2 separate regions of the Homo sapiens genome follow, and region 1 is linked to region 2. The links come from fine-mapping of genetic effects on gene expression. Tissue or cell type: whole blood. Region 2 holds a variant in brackets; the other region holds the start of a gene. All regions are shown on one strand. Distances are between the middles of the regions.

The links.
Region 1: it holds the start of UCHL1, and the variant in region 2 is fine-mapped to the expression of UCHL1 in whole blood (TOPMed, PIP above 0.99).

The regions. Positions count from the first base shown.
Region 1 is chr4:41,246,364-41,260,848 of GRCh38, reverse strand. It overlaps UCHL1 (ubiquitin C-terminal hydrolase L1), which reads right to left and starts at 3,921. Exons shown (of 9, transcript NM_004181.5): 1 at 3,840-3,921; 2 at 3,723-3,734; 3 at 3,112-3,240; 4 at 52-202. The coding sequence starts at 3,872. It overlaps UCHL1-DT (UCHL1 divergent transcript), which reads left to right and starts at 4,122. Exons shown (of 3, transcript NR_102709.1): 1 at 4,122-4,290. RefSeq lists an enhancer at 2,711-3,211 and a silencer at 3,046-3,805.
Region 2 is chr4:41,216,196-41,232,255 of GRCh38, reverse strand. It overlaps UCHL1-DT (UCHL1 divergent transcript), which reads left to right. Exons shown (of 3, transcript NR_102709.1): 2 at 10,772-10,919; 3 at 11,908-12,182. Among named protein-coding and RNA genes, the nearest start is that of APBB2, 9.7 kb to the right of the region's middle. RefSeq lists enhancers at 15,403-15,652, 14,960-15,774 and a silencer at 15,783-15,832. The variant A/G (reference allele first, on the strand shown) is at 6,939.

The sequences.
Region 1 (14,485 bases), 29 kb before region 2:
CCATGTTTCAAGTTCAAGCTTAGGATGGCTGGCCTCAAAACCCACACCTACCAAATCCCAGTTTGTCTTGATTATTGGCCACTGCGTGAATAAGTCCGATTGTGCCACAGGAATTCCCAATGGTCTGCTTCATGAAGTACACTTTAGGACTAACTTCTTGTCCCTTCAGCTCTTCAATCTGCTTTTTCCTGAAGTTCTCATGCTGCGAATGTAAAAAGCGTTTTTACATCTCAGAATGAAAGTGCAAAGAACAGATGGCAGCACATGAGTTCTACCAACTAAATGGAAACACCAGTGGGATGTGTGACCAGAACCCCTGGTTCTAGATGTTGGCTGACTCCCAGAGAAGGGCCCGTCTGTCTGCCTCCCACACCACCCACGCCAGCCAGTGGGGCTCTGAGAGGTTCGGAGACTCCACCCTGGTGCTGCAGTGCAGTGACTGCCTTGGATACTGCCCAAGGCTGTGTCTAGACACCACTGCAACCTTTCAGCCCAAAATGGTGTCACGAAGTCAGAAAACAAAGAAACCAATTCATTATTTTCTCCCTTTAACACTTAACAACTATTTCACATAGGCATCCTAAATCAAGCTTCAGTCAATTGAATGCCCAACAAGAGCACCAGCTGGTTTACATTTCATTATTCTTTAAAGTTCTACTTCTACTCGGCTTAAGTACACTTCGCTTCAAAAACAAAAACGGCCTTAACTGCTGAAAAGAACAAGTGAAAGAAATTAACCATTACCTCCGCCCTCTTTTTAAGGAAAAGACAACTGATCCAGGGTATTGGGCTGTGATTTTACAAGAGGAAGATGTGACACTAGCTTGTCCTTGCCAGCTAAACAGTTTACTTTGAGGACAGACTGGCAATTTGAGGAGGAGGATAGAGACTGGTAAATGAATCGGACTAGGAAACGGATTTCCTCAAAGCATCTGCTAGCTTTCTGTATAGTAATTTAGTAAGCCTATCTGGACTTTTCACTAACTAGCTTTAAAGACCTTAGAAGTTATGATTTCTTGAGCCAGGGTCAGTGGCTTGCACCTATAATCCCAGCTACTAGGGAGGCTGAGGCAGGAGGATCACTTGAGCTCAGAAGTTTGAGACCTTGTCTCTAAAAAATAAAAATATAATAAATAAGTTAGGACTTCCCAGTTAAAGAGTAGGGTACTAACACTATAGAAACACTGATTTCCCATAACGAGCAAAACCAGACAGACCATCAGAAACCTATTTCCAATTCTAGTAGCTTTGCATTTCTGTACATGAACTGAAGTTTAAGCTTGCTCTCTGGTACTAATAGAAGAGTAAGATCTCTTACCCCAGAAGATCAACTTAAACTCCAACTAGCAGAACTTTTTCGCTTCTATCTAACTGGATCCTCAACTTAGTATTCATTGACCAGTAAGTGTTTTTCATTTTCTAGGCTAATTAGATGAAATGTTAAAATGGGATAGCACCATCCTTTAGGGCTGCTTGAGCTCTTCCATGGAAATCATTCTGTAAATAGTCTACTAGCACTTAATGTTTCAGAAGTGGTCCATGTAGGGGGTCATAACATTCCCTTAGTCAAAAATTAAATGCCTTCCAAATTAACATTAGCATCTTTGGAGTCAACCTATAAAACCTCAACTTTTCTTTCAATCGGCTTCAGTGTTTTGTCCAGTAGGCATTCTGTGTAGCAGAATAGGCGCTCGATAAATCTGATAGGTTGAATTGAAACTAAAGGACAAAGTATCGAGCTCTTTCAAACATAACACAAACTAGAATGTTCTCTAAACAAGATTCAGCAAAAGGAGAACAGTCAGCTTTTAAAGGCAAACATGCTGCACCACTGCCTCCCAGAGGCCTTGCCTCTGAATGCTGCTCAAAACCTCCGAGTCATCATGGTTGCTCTAATAAAAAACCTCTGTGTGATGCTCAACTGGAGACAGGAGACTGATTTGGTCAACCAGGAAGCTAATTCGACTTCCAACAATTTGGCATCTTCCTTTTAGCCCAAGTAAAAGACTTTAGCAATAAAAACATGTCAGTGAGATCATCTTATTAGCTGTAAATAAGTGTTTTTACCCACAATACTTAGCTTACTTACTAGGAGGAAGGCTTGGAACTTCCCATACTCTTGATTTTGGCTACAGATGCTTCCAGAACACCTAGCCTTAGGACGGTGCTTCAGTTAACCTCACTCTTTAGAGTGATGCCCCAAGTTTTGCTAAAGCTAATTTCAGTCACTCCCACATCAGCGGTCAAGTGACAGCAATAGGAGATAAGACAATGCCATGCGCTAATGACTGGGATTCCATACATCACAAGACTGCAAATATCCTAGCTATCCTTTAAAAAAAAAAATCTGACGCTGTCTTTCAGATACATCTATCCATGCACACTTGTAGGAGGAAAATCATTTCAAGGGAAATGCAAAGGTGCTTTCAAAACTGAGCTAATAACCCCCTATTTCAGTTAGCTACAAGGTCAGAGATGAACAAGGATAAGTGAAGAGGAAGGAGGTTCCCACACAGAAACCATACACAAAATGATTAAGCTTTAAGAAATACATTCAAGAGGCTAAAAACCAAGTGTGCAAGTGGTGGGAGTGGAGAAGAGAGAAGAACCCCTTAAGACCATCAGAAACCCAAGTAATGGAGGCGGAGAATTAGCGAACCTAATTGTTTCCCTGCGATTTAGGTCAGCCCTTCCCCCTCCATTCTACAGCTAGGTGGGAGTCTGAGAAGCAAACAATGAGTTGACAGGTTATAGCCCTTAAAGGGAAACCAGCAGCCATTCCCCGGAACCGGAGGCTCGAAAAAGCCCAAGTTCGAGGGAACTCATGAGTAGGATGAATGATTTCCCTGGATAACGGGATAGATGGAACTGAGATACTGCCTCTCTTCCAAATTTAAGGCAATTGTGGACGGATGGGCAAGAAGGCGACAGGCACCGCTGGAACAGGAGCCCAGGGAGTAGGTACCACGAAAATGCAGGCTCCTCCCTTCCTTGTAGGCGCGCCCCGCATCACCTACAGGGGAGGGGGCGGGGCGGGGAGCCCCCGAGGACTCAAGCTGGGGAGCGGCGTGCACTGCCGGCGGCCGGCGCATCCTGGGCCCCACGCCCTACCTGGGCCGTGAGGGGAAACAGCAGCAGCAGCGCGCAGGCAGGCGCTGGCACCGAGCCCAGAGACTCCTCTTCCAGCCCCAGCACGTCCACGAAGCGCCACTGGCCGGCGACCCCCAGCCGGGACAGCACCTGCGGAGAGGAGACAAGGCGGCCAGGCGCACGGGGACACGCGGGTCGCGGGCACCTGCCAGGGGGCGGGGCCAGGAGGCGCGCGCCCTCCGCGCCCGCACCCGAGCCTGGGAGGAGCCCCAGTCCCGCCCTGCCACCCCCACCCGGGCCGGCGCAATGACACAGCACAAAGCGCGGCCCACACGTGGCGCCCGCGAAGCCCGTGCAGCCGAGTCTGTGCTGCCCGCGCCACGCCCTCGGGAGCTCCGCCTGGCGCTCGCTCGCCACGGGGCGCAGCCCCCTCCGTCTCCCCGTGACCGGTTTCGTAGAGTCACCCGCTAAATGCAGGGGCCCAGGAAAGGCGCCCAGCCCACGCCCCAGCCCGGCCGTCTCCGGTGCTCGCAGCGGGCGGCTTGGTCCCTGCCAGCAGCCGGAACCGGTGGGCGCCCCCGCCTCGGCGCTCGCGGGGGAGGGGGCCAGAGACGGCGCGAGACGCCACTCACTTTGTTCAGCATCTGAAAGGCAAATGCAAAGAAAAAGGCAAAACCGAACCGATCAGCGACTCGGCTCCCCCTCCCTCGGCCTCGCGCTCTCCGGGTAGCGGTGCACCTGGCGCTCACCTCGGGGTTGATCTCCATCGGCTTGAGCTGCATCTTCGCGGAGCGCCCGGCAGAAATAGCCTAGGGAAGACGAAAAACAGCTAGCGGAGCCGCCCAGGCTGCAGCTATAAAGCGCCGGCCAGACGCACTGTGAGGCCTGTGCAGGGGGAGCAGGGGCAGAACCAAGCGAGGGGGAAACGGACGGTCGCGGCCAGATGGGTACGAACCCCCCGTGCGCAGCGCGGAGTGGTACGGCCGGGCCCCCAAACCTTGCAGTCTCACTCGCCGGTGAGATAATCTGGTGGTTGTGGAGACGGGATTTGTTGGTGGGTGTTCCTTGAGTGTATGGAGCAGTCCTTTTGATGGAGTCTTTAATTTTGGGCGAAGTTTCTGGAAACCCATCCTTTCACCATCCCAATTACTCTAAAGCTCGAGTCTCTGAAGCATTTGAGAAAAAGCACAAATTCAACAGGTATATATTTAATACGAATGAATGTAAATGTGTGCCCCCCGCCCCAAATCTCTCAGCAGTTTGCGTTTAACCTTAGACAATTCCTCCTCCATGTTAAGTCAGACCAGTACCGAGGTTCGTTTTTAAGTGACTACCTAGAATAAAACAGAATCTGGTAGATAACAGATACTGCATTAGGAATGCTGATGTAATGTGACTCCCGCGGAAGAAATGGTTGGTCCTGGGAGAGCAGTAGAAAGCTGGGGGATGTGAGGGTAATACAAGACACAAAGAAGGCAGGCGATTGGAGACTTGAGAAAACAGATCCAGGGAAAAGATGGGTATGATTTTGAGCGAGAGGCTGTAAAAGGAAAAGCATTTTTAAAAGAATGGGAAGCTTTGAAAAATAAAATGTCTGAGTTCACCGCAGAATACTCCCAATGAAGAAGAAAGGGAATGGCAACCAAGGAAACCACTGTTCTCTAATGATCTCAGGTGATCTCTAATGATCTCTAGTCAAAAGATGGAGAGAGAAAGCATTTGCTGAAGAATGAATTTTAAAAGGGACCAAAATCTATAAGAATTGTGCCAGGAAAGCTAAGCTGCAGAACAAAGTGGGCTTGCAGAAATACTTAGGTAGCGAAGGAAGCAAGAAGGTTGAGTATTTTTTAAAAATAGGCACCGAAGAGAATAATGATGATGGTAAAAGAATAGACCTTCTATTTAGGAAGTTGAGGTTAACAGATGACAGAGGGAAGGGAGGGAATCAACATTTTTTGAGTTATTGTTTTTGGGGATCCTTTGCATGTGTCTCTCATTTAATCCTTAGAGGAGCCGTGAAGAGACTCATATTAGTGCAATTTTACAGATCAGAATCCCAGGCCTAGAGAAGTTAATTTGCTTACGGTCACAATTGAAAAGTAAAACTGAGAAGTAAACCCTGCTAAACTGGGCTCCAAGAGCCCATTCTTTATCTAAGATTCCACAACATTCTACTTCTATTTTCTTTCCATTTTTGCCATTAGAAAATGACCTTCACACACAAAAATGAGAGAGAAAAAAATTAGTAAGAGGAGCTTAATGGGTGAATCTTATGGTATGTAAATTTTCCCTCAATAAGGTTGTTAAAGAAAAAAAGAGGTGAAGGTCAAGACAAGTGACTAGGTTATATTGAATGAGTTCTTGCCTTTAGACAAAGACAAATTACATTTCCAATTTACTTCATTTATTCATTCACTCAACAAATATTAAGAACCTACTGTGTGCTGGGTGCCGAGCTTGGAAAGTTTGGAATTAGGCATACAAAGATGAACACAATAAACATGGAAATTTCCCTCATGCCGTTTTTTTGTTTGTTTGTTTTGTTTGTTTTGTTTTGAGACGGAGTCTCGCTCTGTCGCCCAAGCTGGAGTGCAGTGGCGCGATCTCGGCTCACTGCAAGCTCCGCCTCCCCGGTTCACGCCATTCTCCTGCCTCAGCCTCCGGAGTAGCTGGGACTACAGGCGCCCGCCACCACACCCGGCTAATTTTTTTTGTATTTTTAGTAGAGACGGGGTTTCACCGTGTTAGCCAGGATGGTCTCATCTGCTGACCTCGTGATCCGCCCGTCTCGGCCTCCCAAAGTGCTGGGATTACAGGCGTGAGCCACCGCGCCTGGCCCCCTCGTGCTGTTTTTATCAGTCATAAGAGTTGTATGAAAGGGAGCAGAGATCAGGAGCACCTAACCTAGTGGAGGGGATCAGGAAGGCGTCCTGAAGGAAGTGACATTTAAGCTAAGGGCTGATCGGCAAGCAGACGTTAGCAGTTATAAGTGATTGCCAAAATAACTAATAAAAGCAGTCATGAAATCACTGTCAGAAATATTTGTTGAAGGCATTAATTCATTCACATTCATATACATATATGGCCTACTGTTTGCCAGGAAGCATCAGAGCAGTGAATGAAACAACTCCCTGCTTACAAAGAGATGCCAGAGACTGGATATGAACAAACCTAAGCCTAATCTTTTTTAAAAAAAAAAAAAAGAAGAAGAAGAAGAAGTAGGGGGTGATTGGGAATATACTGCTGAAACTGCAGGCCAGAAGAGTTTATATCAGTCATTAGCCAAATGTTAGGACTCATAATTTTTTACTTTTAGAAACAATAAGATGGATGCATTTAGAACAAGTTATGCCAGCCAGAACTTATCTTCTTTTCTTTGGGGGTTATTAACTGGATGGACAGGTAGAACACTGTCATTGTATTTCTTATGCTGCCAGGGTTGGCATTGGTTGATACCACAGTTGAGGTGGTTTTATAGCTTATTTAATTGATTCTACCTTAAAAAAAAAAGTGGTACTGGATGGAGCTACCTCAACCTGTAGCCACCTGACAATGGTTTTAACCTTGTCTGGTGCCACTTTATTACAGCAGAGAAAAAGAGAGGTCGTGCATACAAGCAAGAACAAGCAGTCTAAATGGCAGAATTCTTAGCCAGGTGTGGTGGTGTGTACCTGCAGTCCCAGCTACTTGAGAGGCCAAAGTGGGAGGATTGCTTGAGCCCAGGAGTTCGAGGCTACAATGAGCTGTGATGGCATGACTGCATTCCAACCTGGGCAACAGAGTGAGACCCCATCTCTTAAAATAAATAAATACATAATAAATGGCAGAATTTTGGGATTAAAAAATAAGTTTAAAATAAAATGATGAAATTTAACAGGGATTTAGGTGACGATTACATAACCCTGTGAATATACTAAAAAACTAAAAAGTGGGTTTAGGTATCACAATAAAGCTATTAAAAATGTAACAGGAATATGTGTAAAGCTCTATATTATAGTAACAGTTGTCAATTATTGCCATACAGTTAATCTTTATATTAACTTTTTTCTTGATGCTATGATTGCAAAAGTATGAAATAATTTGGAAAATATCAAGTGAAAACAACACAATAGTTTGATTGTAACCTTTTAAAAATAAATACACAGAGATCAGAAGGAAAAACATTTTTTAAAAAAAATCATTTACAGATGCATTAATGAATTAGATCTGGCTTTGTGAACAGTACCTGAGAAAAAGATTCAAATATTTCAGGTGTCATAATTTGACTATAAAGCTAGTGCAATCTTTATTTATACCAGGAGTGAGAGATTCAATTTCATTTTAATCATAGGTTCCTGAAGGAGAGTCCTGAGTCCAGTAGGGGGAAAAATGCTGTGATTGATTAGTGATGTCTACCACGAGTATGGGAAAGGGAAGTGGTAAGGATAACCAGGTATTTGCTAACCTTTGGCTAGATTAATATAATATTCAAGATCTAATCCACTCACAGAATTGACCAGACTATAACTGGATTATGATGCCCAGCCTGGCATATAATGAACACTCAATAAATACTTTTCAACTGAAAATTCGAACTACCACACTTCAAAAGAGACATTGACATATTAGAGAGTTTTCAGAGACTGAGCGCCAAAATAATGAACAAAGGTGGTTGAAGAAATTGAGAAGACAGTATATGATGTGGAGAAGAGAAAGGGTTTGTGTGTGTGTTTGGGGGATGGGGAGGGGAGTTACATGATACCAAATGCTCAAAAATACAAAGAGGGCGAGAATAATCTTTATGATTATTTAAGAATACAGGACAGACAGGTAGAAGTCAGATGAAAATATTAGTTTATATAAGAAAGCACTTAATAATTAGAGTGGTTCAACATTTATGTAAATTCTTCACATGTAATGGTGAGCATGCTTTTAGCAGCATAATCATAGCTAACACTTACTGATTGCTTACGGATGCCAGGCACTACTTCTTTGTGTTTTCTGTGTATTAACTCTTTTAATCAACATAACAACCTATTAGGTAGGTTACTATTATTATTCTCATTTAGAAATGAAGATCAGAAAGGTTAAGTTCTTTGCCTATGGTTATTTAAGTCATGAGAACTGAAATTTGACCACAGACAGTCTGCACTCTTGACCACTGTACTATATTATACCAGGAGTCCTCAAGTCCCAGGCTGAGGACTGGTACAGGTCTGTGGCCTGTTAGGAACTGGGTGGCACAGCAAGAGGTGAGCGGCGGGTGAGCAAACATTACTGCCTGAGCTCCGCCTCCTGTCAGATCAGCAGCAGTATTAGATTCTCATAGGAGCATAAACCCTATTATGAACTGCACATGCGAGGGATCTAGGCTGTGTGCTTCTTATGAGAATCTAATGACTGATGATCTGAGGTGGAACAGTTTCATCCCGAAACCATTCCCACCCCCAGTCCGTGGAAAAATTGTCTTCCATGAAACTGGTCCCTGGGGCCAAAAAGGCTGGGGACCGCTGTATTATACTATGTCTACCAAGGGCAGAATACCCAACTAAAACTGACTGAAAGCTTAGGACATGAATTCCCTCTCTTAACTCAATGACTGGAGGTTGGTGGTTCTAGGGTTGTCCATGTGTCAACATAAATAACAGAGAAATGTTCTCTAAAAGAAAGTGATATTTATTCAGGAATAGGGCATTGCAATGGAAATACACATGCCATAGTAAACTGTGTGTATATTCAGGAAGATACAAGAAGACAAAGGTTTTTTAAGGACAAATGAGGAATATTACATAATTGTTTTGAAATAATTATCCTTGGCTACAAGGATCAATAACAAGGGTGACACCAGTCTGAGGCTGGACAAGCAGTTTCTAGGCACAAGTCCTTGCAGAAGGATTTTTTATGTAAGATCGTGATGGCCTTTGTACAAAGTTGTGGGTTTTGCAGTCTTTTGTGATAATTTTTGTTATCAGGCATTTATGCATGAGAATCATTCTCTTCCTGGCTTTTCCCAGCTCTATTTGTCAGAGGCTTTTTGTGGTTTGTTTGTTTTTTGTTTCTGTTTTTGTTTTTTGAAACAGGGTTTCGCTCTTGTTGCCCAGGCTGGAGTGCAGTGGTGCAGTCTTGGCTCACTGCCACCTCCGCCTCCCGGGTTCAAGCGATTCTCCTGCCTCAAGCCTCCCGAGTAGCTGGGATTATAGGCATGTGCCACCACGCCCGACTAATTTTTATTTTTAGTAGAGATGGGGTTTCACCATGTTGGTCAGGCTGGTCTCGAACTCCTGACCTCAGGTGATCCACCCTCCTCGGCCTCCCAAAGTGCTGGGATTACAGATGTGAGCCACGGCGACTGGTCTTGTTTTTGTTTTGAAACAGGGTCTTGCTGTGCCGCCTAGGCTAGAGTGCAGTGGCAGGATCATAGTGTACGACAGCCTTGAACTCTGGACTCAAGCTATCATCATGTGTCAGCGCCCTGAGTAGCTGGGTATGCAGGTGTGCACCACCACACCTGGATAAGTTTTTCTTTATCTTTTTTTTTTTTTTTTTTTTTTTGAGACAGAGTTTCGCTCTTGTTGCTAGGCTGGAGTGCAGTGGCGCGATCTCAGCTCACCGCAACCTCCCCTTCCCGGGTTCAAGCGATCCTCCTGCCTCAGCCTCCTGAGTAGCTGGGATTACGGGCATGTGCCACCACGCCCAGCTAATTTTGTATTTTTAGTAGAGACAGGGTTTCTCCATGTTGGTCAGGCTGGTCTCAAACTCCCAACCTCAGATGATCCACCCGCCTCGGCCTCCTAAAGTGCTGGGATTACAGGTGTGAGCCATCTCACCCAGCCTGTTTTTTTAACACAAGTGACTCCATTTTGATTCTGACAAAGTTCACACATGGCTCAATGATCTTATCAAGAATTTAGGGTTTTTCCGTCTTTCCAGTCCACTGTCTTTACGTTATTGTTGAAAGTGTCATCTATAATGGTTGTAAGGTACCTACAGAAGTTCTAAGAATCACATCCTCACACAAGGTCCAAAGGCAAGAAGGAAAATGATATTCTCTTTCACTCTTGCTGTTTCTCAAGTCTGAAGTTTTGCAGAAGCCCCACCCTCCTGAAGAATTCCTTTTAGGTAGCATTGGCCTGAATTTAATCACATATTCATGCACTAGTCAAAAGAGAGGCTGAGAAAGTAAATATGTAGCATTTTTAGACTCCGAGAAGTAAGGTGGGCTTTGCTACCAAGGAATAGGGTAGGGGCAAGGCTACTGGACAGGCAGCTACCAGTGTCTGCCACATCATACCTGGAACTTTTTAAAGACTTGATGAATATCTGTTAATGATGTGGTAGAAAGAACTTCTGCTGGAGGGGGATGGGCAGGAAGTTTGAAATCTTAAGAATACAAGACAAACAGAAATCAGAGGAAAATATTAATTTATATAAGAAAGCATGCTGGGCGCAGTGGTTCATGCCTGTAATCCCAGCACTTTGGGAGGCCGAGGCAGGTGGATCACCTGAGGTCAGGAGTTCAAGACCAGCCTGACCAACATGGTGAAATCCCATCTCTACTCAAAATATAAAAATTAGCCTGGCGTGGTGGCACGCGCCTGTAATCCCAGCTACTCAGGAGGCTGAGACAGGAGAATTGCTTAAACCTGGGAGGCAGAGGATGCAGTGAGCTGAGATCCCACCACTGCACTCCAGCCTGGGCAACAAAGTGAAACTCTGTAGGTAGGTAGGTAGGTAGGAAGGAAGGAAGGAAGGAAGGAAAAGTTAAAATTAGTGTGCTGACCAAGCTGGTGTGGGGGTGAGGGGGACCCCTAGAAAAGAACATACAAGAACGCCACAGACACCTCTGTTCTTGCCCAGAGTCCAGCATTTTTTTGGATGAATATATACTCCAAGATCCCTTTTTGCTTTAATATTCTGTGATTTTCCTCAGTAAGTAATTTTTTTTTTTTTTTGAGACAGATCTTGCTTTGTTGCCCAGGCTGGAGTGCAGCAGCGCAATGGGCTCACTGCAACTTCACTGCGCCTCCTGGGTTCAAGCAATTCTCCTGTTTCAGCTTCCTGAGTAGCTGGAACTACATGCGTGCGCCACCATGCCTGGCTAATTTTTGTATTTTTAGCCAGGCATGGCTGACCTCAGGTGATTCACCCACCTCAGCCTCCCAAAGTGCTGGGATTACAGGCGTGAGCCCCCATGCCCAGCCAAGTAATTTCTTTTCACTGATATTGAGATACCCACAAAGTACTGAGGAGAATATGGTTCTGTGTGTCTTCAAAGGAAAAAGAAGTAAAGATGCAATTTGGTGTGATGGTGAACATTATAGATGATTATTTAGAAGACCTTGATTCCAGTCTTCCTGACTCTGCCTCTAAAGAATGGTGTGATCTTTGGGTCCCAGTTTTCTTGTTTATAATCCTAAGCATTTTAGATTCCACTGAGTATGTATACAGGCAGAGAAACAAAATCAATGGATGAATATGTGTTTTTTGTTTTTTTTTGACGGAGCCTCACTCTGATGCCCAGGCTGGAGTGGCACGATCTCGGCTCACTGCAACCTCCACCTCCCAGGTTCAAGTGATTCTCTTGCCTCAGCCTCTTGAGTAGCTGGGATTACAGGCACCCGCCACCACGCCCGGCTAATTTTTGTATTTTGAGTAGAGATGGGGTTTCACCATGTTGACCAGGCTGATCTGGAACTCCTCACCTCAAGTGATCCACCCACCTCAGCCTTCCAAAGTGCTGGGATTACAGGTGTGAGCCACCATGCCCGGCCTGAATATGTTGCTCTTTCTAAAAAAAAGATTCTGATTCACCAGCAATAGAATTTTTTATCATAAGCATTATTTTTCTTACAATAATGAAGATTTGGGATGGACCCTTTAAAAACTACCTTCTGATGATTCTGATAACTAACAGACACTCATTGTTAAGTAGCTGAATCTGACCACGCGTAAGGATGTAGTTTGAGGCTGAGAAGTAATAGACGAATTTTCTGCTCTGTCAAACATTTGATGGGTTTCTATTCAAACATATTATCTTCTCAGGTAATTGGAACACTTTTTAACAGCTTATTGAGGTACATTTGACATACCATAAAATTCGCTCATTGTAAGTGTACAATTCAACGCTTTCTAGTAGAGTTATGCATTTGTACAACCATCACCACAATCAGGTTCTAAAACATTTCCATTACCCACAAAAGCTCCCTCTTGCCCTTTGCAGTCAATTTCCTCTCCCAGCCCAGCCAACTACTTATGTTTTCTTGTCTTTATAGATTTGCCTATCCTGGACGTTCCTGGACATTCACATACATGGAATCATGCAATACTTAGTCTTTCATGTCTAGCTTCTTTTACTTAGCATACTTTTGAGGTTCCTTCATGTTCTAGCATGTATCAGAGGTCAATTTCTCTTTATTGTTGGATGGTACTCCATTGTACAGATACATCGCATTTTGTTGTCCATTCAGTGGTTGATGGGTATTTGGGTTGCTTCTAGTTTTAGCTACTATGAATAACACTACCGTGAAGATTTGTGTATGTCTATATGTTGACAAATGTTTTCATTTCTTTTAGTTAAATACCTAGAAGTGGAAATGTTGGGTTGAATGGTAACTCTATGTTTAACCTTTTAAGACATTTTCAAACTGTTTTCCAAAGCAATTGTACTATTTTACATTCTCACTTGCAATGTATGAGAGTCGCAGTTTCTCCACATCTTTGCCACATCTGCTGTTGTCAATGTCTTTTTGACTAGAGCCTTTACTGTGGGTATGTGGTGGTATCACTGCACTTTTAATTTGCATTTCCCTGATGACAACTGATGTTGAGCATCTTTTCATGGTGCTTATTAGCCATGCAAGTGTCTTCTTTTGGTGAAATGTCTATTCAAATCTTTTGCCCATTTTTAGTGAGTTTTTCATCTTATTAATGGATTATAATGGTTCTTTATATATTCTGAATACTAGATCCTTATCAAATATTTGATTTACAAATACCATCTCCTGTTCTGTGACTTTAAATTTCTACTCAGTGTTTTTGAGTAGGTTTTTGTTTTGTTTTTTAGAGATAGGATCTCACTATTGTGCCCAGGCTGGCCTAAGGAGGCAGAGGTGGTAGGATGGCTTGAGATAAGAGTTCAAGGACACCTTGGGCAAAATATTGGTTCATGGCTATTGACTATTGTCACATGCCACCACCCCAAGCTGTACGTAGTGTTTTTTGAAGAACAAAAGTTTTTAATTTTGATGAAGTCCAATTTATCAGTTTTTCCTTTATGGGTCATCTAAGAAATCTTTGCCTAATCCAAGGTTACAAAGATTTTCTTTTATTTATTTTTTGTTAAGAAGTGTTAATGTTTTAGCTCTTACATTTAGGTCTGTGATGCATTTTGAGTTAATTTTTGTGTATGGAGTAAAGTAAGGGTTTAAATTCATTTTTTTGTATATGTGTATCTAATTGTCCTAGCATTGTTTGTTAAAAGGGTTATACTTTGTCCACTCATTTGCCTTGGCATCTTTGTCAAATATCTTTTGACTATAAATGTAATGATTTATTTCTGGTCTCTTAATTATGTTCCACAGAGTGATTTGTCTATCTTGATTACTATGTGCCTTGATTAATATGATTTTATAGTTAAGTTGTGAAATCAGGTAATGCAAGTTCTTCAACTTTGTTTTCTTTTTAAAATTGTTTTGGCTATTCTAAGTCCTTTGCATTTTCATATACATTTTTGGATCTGCAGACAGGCTTGTTAATTTCAATCCCCACCTCAAGAAAAGCCTTTCGGGGTTTTAATAGAGATTAGGTTGAATCTATATATTTATTTGGGTAGAATTGCCATCTTAACAATATTGAGTCTCCCTGGCCATGAACATGGACTGTCCTCCATTTATTTAGAGCTTTAAAAAATTATTTCAGTAATATTTTGTAGTTTTCAGTATAAAAGCCTTATACTTCTTTTGCTAAATTTATTTTTAGGTTTTTTTTCTTTTTGATGCCATTGTGAATTCTTTTTGATGCCATTGTGAATGAAATTGTTTTCTTCATTTCAGTATCACATTGCTCATAGCTAGTATGTAAAATACAATTGATTTTTATATTCCCGCAACCTAGCTAAACCCTTATTTTATTCTAGTCATTTTGTTGTTGGTTCTTTAGGATTTTCTACATAAAGGATCACTCCAGTGTGTAGCTGCCTTCTTCTCAGTTTGGGTCTTAAAAAAATGTCTCTTCTCAGTTTGGGTTTTAAAAAAATTCTTATTTTCCTGTGTTACCTGTCTTTCTAAGAATGACCCTATGTCTCGTAGCTGAGTTATCAGCCAGTGACTGGTGAGAGATTATGCTCAAACACCTTGAGCCTGCAAGGTTTCCATGCTTTGCTGTGGATTTGTGTTTGGTTTGGGGAGTGCATTCCAAG
Region 2 (16,060 bases):
TCAAATATATCAGGAATTCTTAGCCCTAAGAAAATCATGAGACAGTCATTAAAAATAGTTTGTGGGTCAGGCATGATGGCTCACATCTGTAATCCCAGCACTTTGGGAGGCCGAGGTGGGTGGATCACTTGAGCCCAGGAGTTTGAGACCAGCCTGGGCAACATGGCAAAAACCCGTAACTACAAAAAAATACAAAAATTAGCCAGGCGTGGTGGTGCACGCCTGTAGTCCCAACTACTTGGGAGGCTGAAGTGGGAGGATAGTTTGAGCCCATGAGGTCAAGGCTGTGGTGAGCTGTGTTCAGGCCACTGCATTTCAGCCTGGATGACAGAATGAGACCCTGTCTCAAATAATAATAATAATAATAATGAAAAAAGGAAAAAATAGTTTGCAGACATCTTAGGTAAACCATGGAGTTGAGAAGTAGCATGCAAGTCCTATGTAAAGTGTGATTCCAACAATGCAAAATATGCCTCTAATGAAGATTTGAAAAAAACCCACAGAAATAATATCCTAAATAAGCTGCAGAGGTATTTTCATATTATCCCATATTTTTCTTTGAAAATATTTATCAAGCTACAAAACGCAAAGGAGATTTCAGAGTTCACGGAGGTTTATGAAGTAGAATACCATTTTAAATAGCCCTGTGACATAAATGAAGCTGGGGTTGTGGGGGTGGGGACTCATTTCTGGAGGCCTACTTGTGCCATGCACTGCACTAATTGTTTTTCACATACTATCTCATTGAATTCTCTGACCCTTTTTAAGAAAGGTGTGATTGACATGCAATAAATGTTTTAAATGTTTAATGTGTGATTTGATCAATTTTGACAGATGTATATACCTGTGAAACTATCACCAAATTAGGATCATGGACATATCCACCACCTCAAGTTTCCTTGCCCCTTTGTAATTCTTTCCACCCACCCTTTCTGCTTCCCAGGTCCCCAAATAACCATTGATCTGCTTACTGTCACTGTAGATTAGTTTGCATTTTCTGGAGTTTTATGTAAATTGAATAATACATTATGTATTATTTTTTGGCCTTCCTTCTTCCAAATAATTTTTTTTAAGAGATGGGGGTCTTGCTATGTTGACCAGGCTGGTCGTAACTCCTGGGCTTAGGTGAGCCTGCCACCTCCACCTCCCAAAGTGCTGGGATTACAGGCATGAGCCACTGCGCCTGGCCCCAAATAATTTTTGATGTCTTCTTCACATCTTATGGTTGAAGAAATAGATTCATAGAAGTCACGTAACTTTCCTAAAATGATATAGTAATAAGAGATGGACCTGGAATTCCAACCCAGTGCCACCTGTCACTTCAATGTGTTGAAAGTGAAGCCCTGAGTGGTTAAATGAATTGTCAAAGGTTATAATGCCAGCAAGTAGCCAAAGTAGGACAGAACCCACTATGCCACATGCCTCTTCGTTATTTATGTGGCTATTGGAAAGAGCATATGACTCATTTTACGTTTCACTAATACTGCATTTTCAGAAGTCTCAACTTTGACAATGACCTCAGGCAGAAGATCCAATGTGGTATGTTTTGGCAAAAGTTTCCTTCAACAATTTCTTTCAACTTGTCAGAATAGAGAAATCTACTTTTTTAGAAATTGCCTTTGATTTCCCTTCAATTATTGTCCTCTTTAGAAATATACTTGAAATTAGGTTAAAGGAAACCATTGGCTGGTTGGGCTTTTTTCCACTTCAGTTTTCTCTTTTGCAGTGAATTATCATCACCTTTGTTACCACCGCTTTATATTTTAGGTGGCCTAGATTGTCAAGGTAATGCATGAAATTGCAGCAAAAGAATTTGGTTTGTGATTTTCTAAAACTGCCACATTGTTACAGCTTGATTTCTAATGAATGTATTTATTAGGCTTATATTTAAGAGATCATATAAGTTTTATCCTAAACACTAGTTTAGTATCTGCAAAGTTTGATTAGTGGGTTGGGAGTTGTTTACATACTGAAAAACAAGTTTAAAAAAATAGAAAGGGCCGGGCACAGTGGCTCACGCCTGTAATCCCAGTACTTTGGGTGGCCGAGGTGGGTGGATCACGAGGTCAGGAGATCGAGACCATCCTGGCTAACATGGTGAAACAGTGTCTCTACTAAAAATACAAAAAATTAGCCGGGCGTGGTGGCGGGTGCCTGTAGTCCCAGCTACTTGGGAGGCTGAGGCAGGAGAATGGCGTGAACCCGGGAGGCGGAGCTTGCAGTGAGCTGAGATTGTGCCACTGCACTCCAGCCTGGGCAACAGAGCGAGACTCCGTCTCAAAAAAATAAATAAATAAAAATTTAAAAAAATAAAAAAATAAAAAATAGAAAGATATAAAATAATTTATAAGCAATAAAATGAGAGCCTTAAAAAGTATTGAAATTATGGAATGCTTATCAGAAAGGCAGGGGAAAGACTTTCCCACTGTTTTCAATCATCTTCTTTAAAAAATGATTTTAATTTTGTGCAACTACTGTTCTCTATGCATGTCAAGTGTCAGAAACCACATATTTCAACAAAGTTCCTGAATATTGTGGATAACTAACATATGTAAAATAATGCTCTATATCTATTGGGGCAGAGTATTTAAGGAGATGAAATGGCATTAGCTCCCATGCCACAAAAGCAAACTAGAATACTGTGGGGAAATATGTCAGTATGAACATTAATTGATACATAAGCCAGATTTACGAGAGTATAAATCAGCCCTGGGTGCGGTGGCTCATGTCTGTAATTCCAGCACTTTGGGAGGCCGAGGTGGAAGAATCGCTCGAGGCCAGGAGTTTGAGACCAGCCTGGGTAACATAGTGAGAACCTGTTTCTACAAAAATAAAACAAAATTAGCCTGGCATGGTGGGGCATGCCTGTAGTCCTAGCTACGCTGGAGGCTGAGGCAGGAGGATCACTGGAGCCCAGGAGTTCAAGGCTGCAGTGAGCTGTGATCACGCCAGTGTACCCCAGCCTGGGTGACAGAGTGAGACCCTGTTTCAAAAAAGAAAGAAAGAAAGGTGGGGGAAAGAGAGAAATAGAGAGAAAGAAAAAACATTTAAGTCAGAAAGGAATAGAAATCATCTTTAGAGTCTGGCTCTATAAGCCTCCTATTCCCAGATGTACGCCCAGCAACACAGCAGAGTAAGAACAAAGTACTAAACATTAAAAAAAAATAATGCTATTGATGAGGCATAGCCAGCCTTAATCTTTTCTCCTAAAAGTTTCCAAATTATAGATTTGAGCTTGTATTTATGAGACACTGAAACAACATTGGAATTTTTTTAGAGGAAAATGAACTGTGTACATGGAACCTAGAAAATTAATAAAGACATAAAAAAATACAACCTTTATAAAGAGATTCTTTATGACCTCTGTACTCATGAAACCTGCTTGTTCAGAGCTCTAATATTGTCAAACTTATCTTTTATTTATTTGTTCATATGTTTCTCTATTTTTATGTAGCATACCAGGCCAAAGAGGTTATACACAGGGCAACATTTATATAGGTTATAAGAGAGAAATATATACGTTGAAAGCAGCCATCACCGACTCTGCTCACCAAGCTCTTCCATCAAACTTTCCCACTAAACTACCCCTTACAGCAGAAGAACCTTGACCTCTGGAGGCCTTCAAGTGCCTGCCTCAGAAAAAATGTGTCTTTTGAGATAGATAGTTGGATGGATGGATGGACGGATGGACGGATGGACAGACGGACGGACAGACAGACAGACAGGCAGGCAGACAGATAGATGTAGTAAAGAAGGAAGTCAAAGTTTACTATTAAAACATCCAGTTGAAAAACATGAAATCAAGAGAACAAAAGTATAAAAATGAACATTAGGATAAGAGGTAGGAAATGAGATGTTCTAATTCAAGCATTGATTTTAGCTGTTTTTGACTTCAGTGACATTTTATTTTAGAGATAACAAGTTCCTGGATCTCTCTATTTTTGTATGTCCTACATTCTATTAGCACAAAATGGAGAAGACACAAAATGTGGAAAGAGATGAAGATACTCACATATTTTTCCAGTTGCCTTAGGAAAGTTATTGTACCTCTCTGAATTTCATTTTTCCCATATGGAAAATATGAATACTCACAGTACCCACCTCACAGAATGCCTCTGGGATTAAGTGAATTCATATATGCACAACGTTTAGCAAATAGGAAGCCCTCAAGCATGTTAGTTACTACACGGGAAAGTACAAAAGCCTATCATAGGTTCGTTTCATGGAACTATGAAGGCCCAGGCTTGCTCCAGGTTTTCTCCTTTTCTTGCTTGGCCTGCGGGATGGAGCCTGTCTTCCTCTCTGGTTCAAAGCAGCCATCACAAAGTCTGCTCATCCAGCTTTCCCATTGTGCTTTCCCTCTAACCTACCCCTTACAGCAGAACTTTGAGCTCCAGAGGTCCCCAGTTGCCTGCCTCCGGAGAAATGTGCCTTTTGACATCTTGTGTTTCATCTAAAAAACTTTTGCCCACTTTTTAGTCTACTTCATTATATATGTGTGTGTATGTGTGTGTGTGTATTTTTGTCTTTGTTTTTGTTTTTGAGACGGAGTCTCGCTGTATTACCCAGGCTGGAGTACAGTGGCGCGATCTTGGCTCACTGAAACCTTTGCCTCCCGGGTTCAAGCTATTCTCCTGCCTCAACCTCCTGAGTAGCTGGGATTACAGGCGCCCGCCGCCATGCCCAGCTAATTTTTGTATGTTTAGTAGAGACGGGGTTTCACCATGTTGGCCAGGGTATTGAACTCCTGACCTCAGGTGATCCGCCTGCCCTGGCCTCCTAAAGTGCTGGGATTACAGGCGTGAGCCACCGTGCCTGGTCTATATATATGTTCTAATATCAAGTATTTTCTCCAAATTTCCTAACACATTTGTCACTCCAGGAGGATGTAGGTTTATCCTGTGATTTCCAATAATTCCTAGAATGTGTTGTATGTTCCCATGGTATAAAGAACTCAGTTTAAGAAAGAGAGACTGACTCCCAGTTCTTAGGATCTGTTTAGTCAGGAAGAATCAAGGAAGGCAGGTCTTTTGTCTCAAGCAGGAATTTAACCACTCTGAGGACCTAGAGCCACTGTGGAAAGGGGCCCTGCAAGAGGGTAATTCAGCTCAGACAGAAAAGAGAGGCAGGACATGGAGCTGGAGAAAGATCCAGTTCTGATGATATCACCTTGATCCTCTAGTCCTCGTCATCACCAGCCTCTTATATTCTTCTTATAAGAATACCAGCCATGGCCGGGCCCAGTGGCTCACGCCTATAATTCCAGCACTTTGGGAGGCCAAGGCAGGCGGATCACGAGGTCAGGAGTTCGAGGCCAGCCTGACCAATATGGTGAAACCCCGTCTCTACTAAAAATACAAAAACATTAGTGGGTGTGGTGGTGCGTGCCTGTAATCCCAGCTACTCGGGGGGCTGAGGCAGGAGAATAGCTTGAACCTGGGAGGCAGAGGTTGCGGTGAGCCGAGATCACGTCATTGCACTGCAGCCTGGGCAACAGAGCAAGATTCCGTCTCAAAAAAAAAAAAAAAAAAAAAAGAATACCAGCCGTATTGGATTAGGGAATACTCCTGGACTCTTGAGTTGCATTTTCTCTTTTGCTCTGGCCTGCTCTAGCCCTATGCCTTGAGGTGCCCTAATATGGCGGGTCATCGCCAACCTCAATTTAAAAAAATGAGAATTACTTTGTAAACATAGATTATTGTATGAACTATGTACCTATGTTCTCAAATGCAGTGATGGAACATTAATTATATATACATTTTTTTCCAGCTTGGCTTACTTTTTACATTTTTTTATTTTTTAACATTGTGGTAAAATACATGTAACAAAATTGACTATCTTTTTTTTCCTTTTTTTCTTGAAGCGGAGTCTCGCTCTGTCACCCAGGCTGAAGTGCAGTGGCGCAATCTCGGCTCACTGCAAGCTCCGCCTCCCAGGTTCACGCCATTCTCCTGCCTTAGCCTCCTGAGTAGCTGGGAGTACAGGAGCCCGCCAGCACACCCAGCTAATTTGTTTGTATTTTTAGTAGAGACGGGGTTTCACCGTGTTAGCCAGGATGGTCTTCATCTCCTGACCTCGTCGTGATCTGCCCGCCTCGGCCTCCCAGAGTGCTGGGATTACAGGCATGAGCCACCGCACCCGGCCTAAAATTGACTATCTTAATCATTTTTAAGTGTACAGTTCAGCAGCATTAAGTACATTCCTATTGTGCAACCATCAACATCATCCATCTCCAGAACTCTTTTCACCTTGCAAAACTGAAATTCTGTATCCATAAAACAGTAACTCCCTATTCCCCCCTTCCCCCAAGCTCCTGGCAATAGGATTAGTTATATTTGAAATATAGAAGATTGTCTGAGGCCAATACCTATGGGGAGATTGTACTCCAAAACTTGAGACATGTATTGTGCCTCTTGTTATTGCAATCACATTTGAAGGATCCATTTATCAGATTTCGTGTTCGTTCTACATATTTTCACAAAATCAATACTGAAATAAGTTGGAGGTAAAGTCACTTTTTGGACCTAGGGAGTTTTTAAAGTGCAGTCAATATGTCATCACAGAAAAAGAAAGTAACATTTTGCAAGAATTATTTGGACTTCATTATTTTGTCTTTGACACCTCTGACTGTCTCTAAAGTTTATAGATATTAGTTTAGGTTAATGAACATTTTCCTGGCTGGGCGAGGCGGCTCACGCCTGTAATCCCAGCACTTGGGGAGGTGGAGTCAGGTGGATCACCTGAGCTCAGGAGTTCGAGACTAGCCTGGCCAACATGGTGTAACCCCGTCTCTACTAAAAATACAAAAATTAGCTTGGCATGGTGGTGGATGCCTGTGATCCCAGCTACTCGGGAGGCTGAGGCAGGAGAATCGCCTGAACCCAGGTGGCAGAGGTTGCAGTGAGCTGATATTGCATCATTGCACTCCAGCCTGGGCA[A/G]CAAGAGTGAAACACTGTCTTAAAAAAAATTTCCTGTATAATTTTTAACTATTTATAAAGGTATTTATTTGGAATGAATAGTGTATTAGTTTCCTAGGGCTGCCATAACAAAGCACACAAAACGAAAGTCTATTCCCTTGCAGTTCTGGATGCTAGAAGTTTGAAATAAAAATGAATGTCAGCAGGTTGGTTCCTACTGAGGGCTCTGAGGTCATGTCTATTCCATGCCTCTCTCTTAGCTTCTTTTGACAGCCAGCAATCTTTAGTGTCCCTTGGCTTATAAATGGATCGCTCTAATCTTTGCCTCCATTTTCCTGGGGGCATTCTTCCTGTGTCTTCACGTAGTTGTCTTCTTATAAGACTACCAGCCATATTGGATTGGGGCCCACCCTATCCAGTATGATCATATCTTAACTAATTTACATCTGTCTGGCCTTGTTATGAAATAAGGTCTCATTCTGAGATACTAGCTTAGGACAACAACATATCTTTTTGGGTGGATGCAATTCAACCCAAAACAGTCAGCCAGGATGAGCCTGATTAATGGCTTGTGTCTTTTATAATACTCTGATAGTTTAACTATTTTTGGACTAACAGGCCAAATAGCACAATAACCAACTCATTGCCTACTACTTACTAGGTATGCAAATATGTTTGTTAAATGAATGTTGCTACCAAACAGTTTAGGAATAACAAAAGAGAAGAATCTCTTTCAAAAAAAAATTAATACCAATAAAATTCTAAAGATTTTTCATCAAAATTGATATTGGAAGTATAAATTCTATGTGGAAAAGATATTATGAAAGAAGAGCTAAGTCAGTTTTGATAAACCAGGACAGAGAAGAGAGACCCACACTACCAGATATCAAGATATATTACAAAGGTATAGAAACAAAAATAGTGCAATATTACCACCCTAATAGAAGAAGTAGTCTATGAAAGGGAATAGAGAGCATAGGAACAGACCAATGAGAATTGGACATATAATAGAGGTGACATTATAAATAAGTAGCGATGGAAAGATTGTTTGATACGTTGCATTAGAACAGTTGGCTTTCTGCTTGCAAAGTTATATCCCTGTTTCACAGTGTATTAGAAAACAAATTAAAGTTTAAATGTGAGAACGAAACAAAATAAAATACACAAAACTTGTAACCTGTCAGACTGTAATAGGGAAAAATATTTTTATGACCTGAAGTAAAAAAAATTTTAAAAATTTAGAATATTTTTTCTAGTCATATTTTGAGTCATGAAAAAAATAACACATTAAAATTTGTAGAAACAGCTTTGAAATATATATATAAGACTTTAGATATTAAATATATATATATAATATATATATGAGGAGAAAGAGATCTATCCCCTGCCTCACCTAGTATTTCCTCTTCCTCTCCTCTTTCCCTAAGTGTTCTCTTAGAAAATTCAGACTCTAGGCAAAACTTTTTCTAGTACATTTTTAATTTTGCTCTTTTTATGACAACAAATAACATAAATAACATGCATACGATATTGTACCTAATGTTCTCAGAACTGTTATCTGATACAAACTTTAACATAATTTCAACAGAACTAAGTGTTTTTCTATTAGTGATAACTTTCTAGAGAGGATATGAAGCTATTTTACCTTTTACAAAAAGGTAAAAACTGGTAGAATATTAGCCTGCTCCACTTTTCCTGTACCCTATTCCTTCACTTCTTGGAAACTTTATTCCAAGAATTTTGCCAGTGCATGATGGAAGAAAATATATGGTGATTTGTCATGTTTACTAATGCTATAACTTTGATTTTTAAACTTTTATTGTCTAAATAAGAGTTAAATTATTACTTGCAAAGCCATTGACTTGGAAACCATTTTCATGAGAAATCATATCTCATTTGATTAAAATAAAGACAGAAAATTCAACCTCAAGGAAAGCTCATTTGTCTTCTACAAATAGCATTTCAGCGAGTCAAAGAAATTAGAGGTGGAAAAATCAATTAGAGCTAATCTACCAGCTTGTCAGAAAAGATTGCTTTCTACGAAATATATTCTAGCTCTTTGTCCAGGTTAATTCTAAAAGTCTCACGGGATGGAGCACTTGTTATATCCTTTTGAAGTTTTTCCTTTTATCTAATTGACCCTACCAAGAATCTTTTTTTTTTTTTTTTTTTTGCTAATATCTAACTTCCATATTAGCTACTAATTCTGTGCTATTACTTTTAATCATACCTCTTCCTATACTAATGTCCCTTCCCCACCAAGTTTGGTTTTTATGATCTCAGATATTTGTAAGGAGCTAGCTTTCTTTCATTTAACCTAATGACAAATGTTTGCTTGTTATAATAAGCTCTTAAAAGCAAAAGAAATCTTTAGATCTTTTTTCTCCATCTTCCTTTCTTTTCCTATTTTGCAGACCTTGTAATGAGGCACTTAAAAGTGAAGATACTGGCAGGAACAAATAGAGAAAGGAGACTATAAATCCCTTGCTTGATCAAGAAGACTATCAATGTCTTTGCAAATTAGCAATATATATTTTATCTATCTCTGGGATGAGCAAAGCATTTTCTCTTGTAAATGATTTCTAGTTATTTTTAAATGTCTTCTCTCTCAGTGTTCCTCATTTCAGATTCCCCATTCCTATTTAATTATGTTTATATGAATTTAAAATGGAGTATTTTTTCAGGTTGGATGGTGTAATTTATGTACCCTGTGAACATGAAGGTGATGGTTTTCCTCTATTCACAAGATTTAAATTCTTGCCCTTATCATGCAGACAATTACTTGTGAGGCACCCTGCACATTGGTGCTCTGGAGTCAAGTTTCTGCTGTTTGATGATAACCAAAAGAGGGATTCTAGGAGTGGTGAGAGATATCATATAACCAGGGAAGGAGATTGCCCTGGGCATAAGAACATAAATTCCTTGTAGCCGGAACCAGTTCAATAAAATGCCAGTGTCTGCACTAACAACTCCTGGTAACCTGGGGGAAGGGCAGAGACAAAGAGTGTGATGAATTTTATTGTGTGCTTTTGTGCTCATTTGAGTTTCTATGAATTTGTGTATAGAGCTGTCTATTACCATTGTTCAGGAATGATTGAATACGTGTTTATGAAATTTACTAAATATGTTTTTCAATATTAAAAATGTACAGAAACATTTAATTAGCTTTCTCTGCTTACCAAGACACTGTCAGCACTTTAAATAACAAAAAAAGATGTGGTAGAATTTTTCTAGAAAAAGGGCCCTGTACTACCTTTCACAGAGTCATAACATCTCTTTAGGTGAAAGCCTGTGCTCTGGAGCGAGACTGCCTTCTTCAGATTCTGCCTCTGTCCCTTAGCTGTGTGACCTTTGGAAAGTAATTTCACTCCCTTGGCCTCAGTTTCCTCTGTTATAAAAGAGTAATCAGCCTATCTGAGGAAAAACTATTATAAATTGAGACTAAATTGCGTTAACATTTGGATGGTTTTGTTTGTTTGTTTGTTTGTTTTTTGAGTCAGAGTCTCACTCTGTTATCCAGGCTGGAGTGCAGTGGTGTGATCTTGGCTCACTGCAGCCCCTGCCTCCTGAGTTCAAGCGATTCTGCTGCCTCAGCCTCCCTAGTAGCTGGCATTACAGGTGTGCACCACCATGCCTGGCTAATTTTTGTATTTTTAGTAGAGAAGGGGTTTTACCATGTTGCCCAGACTGGTCTCAAACTCTGTGAACTCAAGTGATCCACTGGCCTCAGCCTCCCAAAGTGCTGGGATTACAGGTGTGAGGCACTGTGCCCAGTGAGTTAATGTTTGTGAAGTGCTTAGTGCAGTGCCTTAAAAACTAATTTAATTTTTTTCTTCCTTTCATTCACTAAACAGATATTTATCAAGTGTCTTCTCTGTGATGTGGCTGAAGATAGGAATTTACAGCATGGCAACAAAGAATGATACAACATCTAACTGTACTATGTGTGAAGTGCTACAAAAACATATGGCAAGCTCTGGAATCAAGAAGTGAGGAGGCCAGGTGTGGTGGCTCATGCTTGTAACCCCACGACTTTGGGAGCCCAAGGTGGGAGGATTGCTTGAGCTCAGGAGTTCGAGTCCAGCCTAGGCAACATAGTGAGACCTCATCTCAACGAAAAATAAAAAAATTATCTGGGTGTGGTGGTGCACACTTGTGGTCCCAGCTACGAGGGAGGCTGAGCCAGGGAGGTCGGGGCCTCAGTGAGTCATGAACGTGCCACAGCACTCCAGCCTGGGTGACAGAGCGAGACTATTTCAGGCAAAAGGAACGGCATAAGCAAAGGCACCAAAGTTTGTAACTGCAAGATTTGTTGGCCTGTGTGTGACCAAATATAGGTAAAGATCGTGGGGTGGGTGAGTGGGAGAGGGGATAAGATGCTCTTCCTACTTCAGCTAAGTTGCAAAGGTTCAGGAACTGTGGCCACAGCAAGTGGCCCATGGGGTTGTGCCATTGGTGACACACTGTGCCGTGGTCTTGTCTGTTATTTGCCGCCAGTCCTCCATGGATCCCGACCCTTTTCTTAACCTGATTCTCCATCTTTGGGTTGAGACAGTGAGCTGCCTGACAACTCTCTCAGAAATTATTTTTTCTGGGTAAGTTAACCAGAATGAGTTCCTTTTGCTTGTAACCAAGAGATGTCTCATACAATAGAGAATGTAATCTCTTTGGCATGTCATCTGAATTTCCTAAATTTTAATCAATAAATAATGAAGTACTTCTGTAATAAAATACTTGTATTTAATATAAAAATCAAATGTAAATGTAAAACATAAAAATTTAATTGAAAATTATTTAAAATGTAAAAAAAAATTCACATTGAGACAAAAGGATAAGATGGATAATTAATAATAGTGGGAACAATTTGAAGATAATCTGTATTGAGTGCTTGCCTGTGGGCCAGATACATTGTTACGAGCTTCACGTGCAATATCTCACATGCTTGGTAACAACAATAAGATATTCATGCTATGATTATCATTGTTTTCAGATGAGGAAACTGAGGGGTGAAGAGTTTAAGTCGTCTGCCCAAAACTAGCAGTGGGAGAGTGATGCAGCCAGGATTTAAACCCAGGTAGCCCAAATACGGCATCTACAATCTATCTCAAATCTATGGCATCACAGATGAGCTGGTGTCCACCTTTCCCTGAAGGAGTTGAAGGAGCTTTTATAGAAGAAGTGATATCTGAACTGGACCTTAGAGAGTAAGTAAAATTCTGCCAGATAAAGAATATGTAAAAGTGTTAGTCCAGCCTGAGATTTGTGTGCAAGGGCAGAGTCGGGAAAGGCCACTACGTGCTTGCAGGAATGCCTCATGGGCATAAGTTGCTGGCGTGTGGGTGTAGTGGGGGTTGGGTAGAGGGAGAGGTATGAGCTGGGGACGGGGTGGCTGAAAAAAGAGGTTGGTAGTAGAGGAATCCAAATATATTTTTGAAATGGAATAAGGGTTGTTATATTTTTAATTTTCTTTTTATTACCAACCAAACAAGCAGCAGTGATGGAGTGATGGAGTTTGATTATGTGTCCTTCAGTTTAGTAGTTAAGATTTTATCTTTAAGCAACTGGAAGTCATCAGCGGTTTTAAAGGAGAAGAATGACATCATCAGCACCTTTTTTTAGAAGGATCACTCTGGCAGCGGTGTGAAGAAAGGGCTTGGATTGGGAGTGATGGGTGTCATCAAGGTTGGTTAGCAGGATTCTGAAATATGCATGAAAAGACAGTGAGGACAGTGGACAGTGAGGACAGAGAGGCAGGCCCACATTTGAGAGGCAGGCATTCCTGAGTTGGGAGCAAAAGGGCTTGGTGATTAATTTAATGCGGGTGGTTGAGGAGGAAGGAAGAATTGAAGATGACTGAGATTTCTAGTTTAGAAACCTGAGTAATTGGGGAATGTCATTAACTGAAATAGGAGTGGAAGGAAGGAAATCATCCTATGTGAGGCCTACCAGAAGCTTTACATATGTTATTTAATCTTAAATAAACCTATAATGAAAAAATTAACATGCCCATTTTGCAGATAAGAAAAGTGAGATTCAGTGAGGTAAAGTAGCTTGCCCAAGGTCACACAACTACTAAGAGCTGGAATGTGAAATAAGGTCTTACTCCAGTGCCCCTATTCTTTCCATGATAGTAGGGGACTTTATGCTTTGTACCTCTTTGTACCTTTCTACACTCTAATAATAATTTTAGTTTGGAAAAATAGGACTGAAGCTCAATGGGAAGGTAGACCATGGAAACATGGTCCTCCCAGGAATAGTGCAGTATGAAGAGAGATTAAAGGATTGCCCTAATGACATTAAGGCCCAGAGCAGCACTGTTGAATACAATTTTTTGCAGTGATGCAAATGCTTTTTACTTACATTATCCAATACAGTAGTCATTAGGCCATATGCTACTGAGCACTTGAAATGTGGCTAGTATGAAAGAGGAACCGAAGAGTTAATTCTAACTGATTTTAAGTGATTTCAGATTAAATAAGCATATGTGGCTAGTGACTGCCATATTGGATGGTTTAGGACTAGAGAAACCAGTCAGGCGTAGAGGGTTCATCAGAGAAGAGGCCTTGCTGGTACCCCTGAAAAATCACTCGATATTTGATCATCTGCCTCATACCTCTGGGTAATATTGGTCCTATATTTGGGGACCATAATTTATTAGCTAGCAAAAGGTTTTTTCCTAGTGTGGACTACAAACTTATTTTACTATGTTTTATCTTTAGGAGAGTAAGTACAATACTCCCTCTCCTTTCTTATCTGAGAATCATTATAGTCATTTTCTCTGTATTTACATTTTTCCATACATAGTATTATTTAAGAGCTCAAGCTCCAGGAAAACTGCCTGGGTTCAAATCCCAGTTCTGCCAATGAATATTTTGTGCCTTGAGTTAGCTGCTTCACATTTGCAAGCCTCACTTTCCCTATCCATAAAATAGGGATAATAATAGTGCTTCATTTATAGGGTAGTTGTGAGGATTGAGTTAAATAACCTATGGAAAATGCTTAGCCAGTATCTGGCACATGCTAAATAGTCAGTAAGAGTTAGCTATTCTAAAACTAGTACCGTGTGACAGTGTGTATTTTGTACCTCTGCATTTTGACATTTACTCAACTCTATTTTTGCTTCAATAGAAGGTGTTCCTCCAGATCTCTGTCAGAACATTCCAAAAAGAAATTCATTCCTCAAGATAAGAAGGTAGACAGAGTTTTGAAGAATTAGATTTTATCTTATTGCAGGCATGAGTTTTGAGTTGTTTTTTATTTCACTTTGATTACTAAATTGTTAAAGTATTTAAAATCATTACAGAAGAAAATCATGACCGTGATATTTTGTTGTGATCATTAAAATTCCCTTGGTTTAAGCTCAAACCGTTGCACATATACCACACAATCAAATAATAATACTAGAAGTTCTTAATGTTGGCACAGAAGATTTCTTGATGTTTTGTAGTTATACTGTTTTTTTTGTTTTGTTTTGAGATGAGGTCTTGCTGTGTGGCTCAGGCTGGAGTGCAGTGGCTATTCACAGGCAAGATCCTACTGCAACTTTGAACGTCCAGCCTCATGTACCCTCTTGCCTCAGCCTCCCCAGTAGCTGGTACTACAGGCTTGGGCCACTGCACCTGACTCATACCTGTTTAATTGAAATATTTAATTCCTAGACTCTGGCTATTCAATGCCACTTAGAAGTGGCTGGATATTTGTTGATCATGGACTATTTAAAGACTAATGACGTCACAGGAACAAGTAATAGGATCCCTTTTGTTGTCACCTATTTTGTATTTTGTAATCTTTGGATTGTAAAACTGCATTGTAATATAGTATTGCACTCCCTACGGTGTTTGTGCAAAAAACATTTTTTTTTCCCCATTAGATTGGAATTTTGAGAAATCTGGCTTCAAGTGCCAGTTCTGCCTTTGGTTTGTCTAAATAAAGAAGTCATTTATTTCTCTGGGCCACAGAGAGGTAAATGTCATCTGTAAAGTCTAAGAGTTGATCTTGATTTGATTCTAGAATGGTCTTGAGGTATCCTTCCAAATAAAATTCCTTGGATCTGCCTCCTTCCCCCAACTCCCTAGGAGGACCTTTGGCCTTAAGGGACTTAAGAGAGGTCAGTTTTATCTACTGTTCACAGCGTTTACTTCCATGCTTTAAAAAACATGCTCTTGGAATATTCTTGGATATTTCATTTCCTTGGAAAACAATTAATGGGTGAGTCAGCATGAAGAAAAAAACCCACTCACAATAGATATAAAAATTGCATGAAGTGGTGAAACGAGAAATGATTTTCTTTGTAAACTGAAATGATGAGGTATGCAGAAACCAATTACGTATTTATAAAATGAGCGCGCGGTGGGAAAGCTTTATGTAGCAAAGCTAAAGTGCTGTTACATATTTAGCAAGACAGAGGGCATGGAGATTCCTCTCCATACTGCCTTAAAACTGCTGTTAAACGTTCCTTTCAGTGAGAGAGACAATGTGTTGGGAGGCGGACGAAGGAAGGAAGCAAGGGAAGGGTCAAAGCCTTCCCTCCGGCCCCGATCAGTCCCCTCTGTAAATTCATAATTAAGGGAATTTCCTCCTGCAGCTGCGCAACGCTTGGTGGCCGTTTCGACGTCACTGTCAGGGCATTTCAGGGATTTTGTGTGCCCAGGCAGTGACTTCCCGACTTCTCCGGCGTATCCCCGACGGGGCGCAGAACACCGCCCGTGGCGAAGTCGGGCCGGGGGAGTTTGGGAACCCGTCCCCGGGAGCTCAGCGGCCAGAGGAGGGCGCGGAAGTGTTTCCTGGGTGAGCGCGGCAGCGGGACCCGTTTCCGGAAGGCTGATTGCATCAGGTGTGGAGCAGGGCGCCTCCTCGGCCCAACCTGGCGGCCTCTGCGCCTGCGCGCGCCGCCCCGCCCCCCCCCCCCCCCCCCCCCCCGCCGCCGCGGACTCCACCGCGGGTTTTCCTCTCCGTCGGGAAGAGACCGACCTGGGAGGGGCAGGCTCCGCTCACCTACCCCGGACCCCCGAGAGAGAGCGGGGTGGCCAGGCCGGGTTCCGGGGATCTGAGGGGAGCTGTGAGGTCCGGGAATAGAGTGCCTTGGAAAGAGGACCCGTCTGCAAGGTTGGAGGCTGGTCGATCTCCGCTCCTGACGGGAATGG